Linked DNA regions of Homo sapiens. The protein of the gene in region 1 interacts with the protein of each later gene in a biochemical or structural test. Each region holds a gene or a part of one and is shown in the gene's direction. Other genes may lie near its edges. The genes, in order: CCDC43 and MFHAS1.

Region 1 (3,820 bases):
CAGCTCACTGTAACTGCTGCCTCCCAGATTCAAGTGATTCTTGTGCCTCAGCCTCGTGAATAGCTGGGACTACAGGCTCATGTCACCATGCCTGGCTAATTTTTGTGTTTTTAGTAGAGATGGGGATTTCACCATGTTGACCAGGCTGGTCTCGAACTCCTGACCTCATGTGATCTGCCCACCTCAGCCTCCCAAAGTGCTGGGATTACAGGCATGAGCTACAGCACCCTGCCTCATGTTGTCATTTCATAACACAAATTATGGTTGGTATTTGGCTTTATTCAGCTAAACACTTTACCCTTTAAAATGGAAGAGAAATGGGCGAATATACCCACCACTAGGATGGTAAATTAGGTACAGAAAACTCAAATCATAAAAGCCAAATTTGGAAAGATTCTGAACTCTGTACACTGTTGGTTCTCAGTTTTGGCTGTATATTAGAATCACTTAATGTACCTGGGTTGGGGCCCAGGCATTTGTATTTTTTAAAAGCTCCTGTAGGTGATTCTAATGTGCAACCAAGTGTGAGAACTACTATTTTACACCATTGTTTCCTTTTCTTGAGACTGGAGAACTTACTAGTTGATTTTATTTTATAGCATGGCAAAATATTTTTTTTTTTGAGACGGAGTTTTGCTCTGTCGCCCAGGCTGGAGTGCAGTGGCGTGATCTCGGCTCACTGCAAGCTCCGCCTCCCCGGGTTCACGCCATTCTCCTGCCTCAGCCTCCCGAGTAGCTGGGACTACAGGCGCCCGTCACCACGCCTGGCTAATTTTTGTATTTTTAGTAGAGACGGGGTTTCACTGTGTTAGCCGGGATGGTCTCGATCTCCTGACCTCATGATCCACCTGCCTTGGCCTCCCAAAGTGTTGGGATTACAGGCGTGAGCCACCGCGCCCGGCCAAAATATTCTTAATCTAAGAATTCCACCTGGCATAATCAGAAACATAAACAGGACCAGCTTAAGTTGATTTTAGATTCCTGCTTAGGTTTTTGGGATGCCATGGGGAAGTTGAGTGTTCAGAGGCTTAGTTTTCTGTGGTTCTAATGCAGTGCTTTTCAACCTTTTTTTTTTTTTTTTTTTTTTAAGGCAGCAGAACTTCAGTATATAAAACAAGTAAAATCAGGGCTGCTCTGATTGAAGATGGATACAAAGCTTGGCCTGCATGGCCTTTCCTTTCCTTTCTCAATGGCCCCCGAGCCATGTCCTTTGAACTGCCAGGCTCTAAGGAGGCAGCAGATGCCAATGTCTTCAGTACAAGTGCTGCCTATGTGGACTAGTGGTTCAGTGAGCTTGTTCTCTCTCATACAACCTTGTTCTTCCTTCCACCACCTCCCAGATGAAGTACAGGCCATTGCCACCCTAATTGAGAAGCAGGCACAAATCGTAGTAAAGCCAAGGATGGTGTCAGAAGAGGAGAAGCAGAGAAAAGCTGCCCTCCTGGCCCAGTATGCTGATGTGACAGATGAAGAGGAATATCCTTTCTGGAGTCTCGGCACCATTCCCTAAAGCTCAAGCCAGACATATTTGTGGGTTTACAGTGACCTTTGGCAAGTTGCTAATCCCCCTCTATAGCTTAATTTTCCCCTCTAAAATGGCAGTAATCTATGGCCCTTTGTGGATATGCGGAGTGATATTGGATTAGTTGATACTGGACTTATATTTTTCAACACATAATCATTATATTCCTGAAAACTTTGGTGTAAAACAAATAATGTCTTAATAGTCCATTTATATTATGCTTTCAGAAAATACAATATAGCTGTAATTCTTTATATTTGTATAATACTTTTCTATACAGTGTAGTATAAAGTATAATCCATCTTTATGTTCTTTCCCAGTCAATAAGGAAACTGAGACACCAACAGATGAATGGGTGATCAGAGGCATTCAGAAGATTAGTGGCAAAACCAGGACTAGAACCTGGGTATTTTTGGGTGAAAGATTCTCTAAATTTAGAGCAGCTTGCATCTTTTCTTTCTTATGTGACCAGGTAGTTAAAAGTAAGGCTGAACCTCCAAAGCAATACCAGAATAATTCTGGACAGAGTCTCGCTTCGTCGCTTAGGCTGGAGTGCAGTGGTACAATCTCGGCTCACTGCAACCTCTGCCTCCCGGGTTCAAGCCATTCTCCTGCCTCAGCCTCCCGAGTAGCTGGGACTATAGGCACGTGCCACCACGCCCAGCTAATTTTTCGTATTTTTAGTAGAGACAGTGTTTCACCATGTTAGCCAGGCTGGTCTCGATCTCCTGACCTCATGATCTGCCTGCCTCACCCTCCCAAAGTGCTGGGATTACAAGCGTGAGCCACCGCGCCTGGCCTCTCTTCTAATTTTTTTTTTACGAGTTTTCTTGCCAGGGTTGGCAGAGCTATGGTTCCGGTGACATAATTTCTCATCTTGGGCTAGAAAAGGACTTTTAAAGCAGTGGTTCTCCTGGAGGACTTGTTAAAACACAGATTGCTGGGCTTCACCCACAATTTAGTAGGTTTGGCATAGGTCCCAAGAATGTGTATTTCTAATATATTCCTGGGGGTTTTGTGAACCACACTTTGAGAACCACTGTTTAAAGGTCATCTGGCTTCCAGGTAATGTGGCAATCCACCCAGACCAACTTAAGTTTCTTTTCAGCCTCCAAGAAAAGGATCTTATAGAAGATATATCAATCTTTCCTAAGTTGAGGTTTCCAAAGATGAATCTCCTGGGTTTATCGCCATATCCCTGATAATGTGCTCCCTCCATTCAGTGTGCTTTTCCTACTTACCAGTCTATTGAATGTTTTCTAATGTTAGGTTGGGATGTTGTTTTCCATCTGACTTTCCTTAACATCACTTACTGAAGCAGATGAGAAGGATGATTCAGGTGCTACCACAATGAACATTGGTTCTGACAAACGTATCCTTCTGGGTCCCTCCCTATGTGTTTCTCCATAGAGTCCTCTTGAGATCAGTTTTTATTTTGCTGTCATTGCTGGCGGCTCCCCTTTACCTTCAGGAACTCATGTCATGCTAACATTGGGAGCCCTATTCCTAGGACAGCCCTAGATAGTCAGTTTAGCAAGAACTTTCCCCAGAGAAAACAAGTTAACAAGTACTGTAAAGGGATTAGTTTGGAGGAAGGATTTCTAAGGGAAAAATAAAAATCTATACTCTGAGTTGCCCAGCATTAGGGAGAAAATTAAAATAATATTGAGGTCAGGCGTGATGGCTTACACCTGTAGTCCTGGCACTTTGGGAAGCCGAGACAGGTGGATCGTTTGAGCCCAGGAGTTTGAGACCAGCCTGGGCAACATGGCAAAACCCTGTCTCTACTAAAAAAAATACAAAACACTAGCCAGGTGTAGTGGCATGTGCCTATAGTCATAGTCCCAGATACTCAGGAGGCTGAGGTGGGAGAATCACCTGAGCCCAGGAAGTCAAGGCTGCAGTGAGCCGAGATCTTGCCACTGCACTCTGGCCTGGGATATGAGAGTGAGACTGTGTCTCAAAAAATAATAAAATAATGTTGAAATTTTCTCTTTTTCCTCAAAAACCTTATAATTTGTCAGAGAATACAAACACCAAACACTTTTTTTTTTCTTTTTTTTGGGACAGAGTCTCGCTCTGTTGCCCAGGCTGGAGTGCAGTGGTGCGATCTCGGCTCACTGCAGCCTCCGCCTCCTGGGTTAAAGTGATTCTCCTGCCTTAGCCTCCCGAGTAGCTGGGACTACAGGTGTGTGTGCCACCATGCCCGGCTAATTTTTTGTATTTTTAGTAGAGACGGGGTTTCACCTGTTAGCCAGGATGGTCTCGATCTCCTGACCTCATGATCTACCTGCCTCA
Region 2 (3,820 bases), on another chromosome or scaffold:
GTGGAGGGCTTTCTGTTGCATGGGCTCTTGCCAGCTCATGTCATTCGGTTGCTGCTTAAGCCTCATGTCCAGGCCCAGCAGGACTTGCAGCTGTTGCTGGAGCTGCTGGAGAAGATGGGACTCTGTTACTGCCTCAATAAACCCAAGGGCAAGCCTTTGAATGGGTCCACAGCTTGGTACAAGTTCCCATGCTATGTGCAGAACGAGGTGCCCCATGCAGAAGCCTGGATTAATGGGACCAACCTAGCTGGGCAGTCTTTTGTGGCTGAGCAGTTGCAGATTGAATATAGCTTTCCTTTTACTTTTCCACTTGGGTTGTTTGCACGCTACAGTGTCCAGATCAACAGCCATGTGGTGCACAGGTCGGATGGTAAATTTCAGATCTTTGCCTATAGAGGGAAAGTTCCTGTGGTTGTGAGTTACAGACCTGCCAGGGGAGTCCTGCAGCCAGACACCCTGTCCATTGCTAGCCATGCATCATTACCAAATATATGGACCGCATGGCAAGCCATAACCCCCTTGGTGGAGGAACTGAATGTCCTACTTCAGGAATGGCCTGGACTGCACTACACCGTGCACATTCTCTGTTCTAAGTGCCTTAAGAGAGGATCGCCCAATCCACATGCTTTTCCAGGTAAGTGGAGAGAGGGAGAAGTTCTTCTGTGGTATGCTGTAAGATATGTTTTTGGAGATACTTGGTTGTCATTTGGCAGAATGTTTGTTTAACTTCACGGGTTCTCCAGGAAAGCTTCGTAAGGGAAACACAGGGAGATTTGGAGATGAGCAAAAGGTAGTAAGTACCTGAGCCTTATGAAATGCAGTCACAAGTGTCATCCTCTCCTAACAGACTCAGACTTCCAAAATGGGTTCCAGTCACAACATTTGCCATCTCCTTTCCCCTCTTGTCGATGTAGCCCACATTTGGTGGAAGGAAATTTCAGGTGGTTGAACAGATAGATTCTGGACAGTGTCCGATGTTAGCCTCTTACTGATCGTTGGCTAAAGTGTTCATTAGACACGTCTCAAAGGGGTAGATGAGTTTGAGTTTCAAGTGTCCAGTGTCACAATTTTTTAAAAAACTTAAATTTTCGTGAGTACATAGGTTTGTATATTTGTGGGGTGCATGAGATGTTTTGATACAGGCATGCAATGCATAGAAATCAGATTGTAAAATGCGGTATCCATCCCCTCAAGCATTTAAGCACTCTGCTTACATTCAGAATGTAATTAGAAAGTAAAAATTACTGCTCACTTTTCTTAAGAAATTCCAGAGAAAATCTTTTGTAATTGGAGTGAACAATGGATGAGTAAAGACAGAAATTTCAGACTGTAATGCATGACTAAATCCTGGGGCTGCTGCTCCCCTCCGCCCACTCAGGGACATGGAAGATAGATGACTGAAATCTTTGAGGGGCGTTTCCTCGGGAATTTCCTGGCAGTTTCGAGTTTTATAGACGTCTTAAGGTTTGTTTTTTGGTAAGTGTTAAGCAAATGAAGCTTTCTGGCAGTGCTTAATAATTGAGACGGAAGGGACAGAAAGCTAAGAGTTTTCTGGAGAGTGTTTTCCAGTAGACTTTTTTTTCGTTTTCTTTTTTTAAACCATCATAAGCAAGTGGAAGAATTCCAGGACTAGTTGTCTGGGGTTTTTTGTTTTTTTTTTTTTTGAAGACTTTTTTTTTTTTCTTAGAGCAGTTTTAAGTTTATAGCAAAACTGAACAGAAGGTACAGAGATTTCCCATATATCCCCTTCCCCACATGCGTAGCTTCACCAACGTCAACATCTCCCACCAGAGCAGTACATTTGTTTCAGTTGATAAACCTGCAGTGACACATCAGTACCAGCCAAAGGTCATAGTTTACACAGGGTTTACTCTGTGTTGGGCATTCTGTGGGTTTGGACAAATGTCCAATGACCTGTATCCCCCATTATAGTATCATACAGAGTAGTTCTACTGCTTTAAAAATCCTCTGTGCTCTGCCAATTCATTCCCCCCAACCCCGGCAACCACAGATCTTTTTACTGTCTCCATAAGTTTTGCGTTTTACTTATATGGGATTTTTTTCTTTTGAGCCTGGTTAATTGGTATCAAACTAGTTTTTAGTTGGGAACGTGTCCATTTCCTCATCCTTTGTAGTTCTTTAAACAACTGTTTTTGTGTGTGTGTGTGTGTGTGTGTTTTGTTTTTTGTTTTTTTGTGGAGCAGGTGGTTAACAACATTCCAAGTGTCCTAAGCACAAACCAGACAGAACAATAGCATCCTTGCACGTTTCTCACCTGGGTCCCCACCCCCAGGGGACCCGGAGGGGTGATGAAATGGAAGACTGCGTCCCACTCTGATCTTTGTCCTGGTCAGAGAGGGACAACAAGAATGCAGCTGGTAATAGTATCAGGAAGGAATTGAATACCAATATTTCCGAAGGTGACATCTTTCCGTTGCCCTGGATCTAGGTTGAATTTAATTCTTAAGCATGAAAAAAGCCAGCGTATTCAGTTACCAGTCAACTGAGACATCCATTCTGTATGTTTATCTGGAATCTTGTCACACTCCATGACTTGGTAGACTCTTCAGTTTGTTTTATATTTGTCATTGTGTGTTATTCATGGAAGCAAGATACTTCTTTATTGTGATACCAAATGGAATAAAGTGACTGGGAGTTACGCATTTACAGGGTAGTTTACTGAAGGAGCAACCTGAAGCCATTCTTAATCCAAAGTAATAAAAACGAATGTTATTAACAACAAAAGGAGAGACATAGGTTATTGAGCAAGTAAAGATCTTCTAAGAACTTTGAGGAGTTAGGGGCGAGGCTGGAGGTTTTTTTTTTTTTTTTTTTGTTTTTTTTGCTAACGTCAGCTCTTTATGTTTAATTTTTACCAGTCATAAATTCCACAGACAAGCTTGTACTGAGATGCAGAAACAAGCCCCTTGTCTTGTGTTGTCTATTTGCCTTTCAAATGAGGCACACCTGGTTTTGCAATCCAGGCTATAAGGAAGAGATTTTTTTTCAATGTGGAAAACAAATGATTGAAAAATTGTAAAATTATCTTATAGATTGAATAGGAATAAATCATCAGTTGTTTTTAGAGCACGATTATAAAATATATACATATACATATAATTATAAAATATGTACATATAAAATATATATGTATATATACACCAACGTACATATTTTTGTCTTATAGTCTTTTTGTTTTTTTTTGAATTGTGTTGTTTTTCAAAAGTAGCAGAGGGTATAGAATAGTAGAAAACATGATTATAGTACATTTCTCGTTACATTAAGAAGATGCAAAAAACATTTTCCTCTTCTGTATTTTTCTGTGATAGCCATCATTTGTTAGTAATTGTTACAGTTACGAAAGATTTGGTAAAAGTTAAAATAATGAGTTAGAAATAAAAGCTAAATGTGGGAACAGAATTATGTTGAGTGTTTAAGTAGAGCATACATTAAAAATAGATTCATTGAATCCCTAGATTATTAAAATATATATTAATTCAGCAGAAACCCTTTGAATCTATTGGCAGCCTTTGCCTTTTCATGTTTTTTTGTTTGTTTGTTTGTTTTTGAGATGGAGTCTTGCTCTGTTGCCCAGGCTGGAGTGCAGTGGAGTGATCTTGACTCACTGCAACCTCTGCCTCCTGGATTCAAGCGATTCTCCTGCCTCAGCCTCCCAAGTAGCTGGAATTAGAGGCATGCGCCACCACACCTGGCTAATTTTTGTATTTTTAGTAGAGGCGGGGGTTTCGCCAGGTTGGCCAGGCTGGTCTTGAACTCCTGACCTCAGATGATCCACCCACCTCAGTCTCGCAAAGTGCTG

What was found.
Region 2: the proteins of CCDC43 (region 1) and MFHAS1 form a complex in vitro, tested with the Homo sapiens proteins (one large-scale study listed by BioGRID and IntAct).

Annotation. Positions count from the first base shown.
Region 1 is NC_000017.11:44,679,659-44,683,478, reverse strand, and holds part of CCDC43 (coiled-coil domain-containing protein 43), read left to right. Parts: intron 1-1,340; coding exon 1,341-1,476; intron 1,477-2,835; coding exon 2,836-2,894; intron 2,895-3,820.
Region 2 is NC_000008.11:8,886,875-8,890,694, reverse strand, and holds part of MFHAS1 (malignant fibrous histiocytoma-amplified sequence 1), read left to right. Parts: coding exon 1-634; intron 635-3,820. UniProt on the Homo sapiens protein: Probable GTP-binding protein. Functions in innate immunity and more specifically the inflammatory response as a regulator of the Toll-like receptor TLR2 and TLR4 signaling pathways.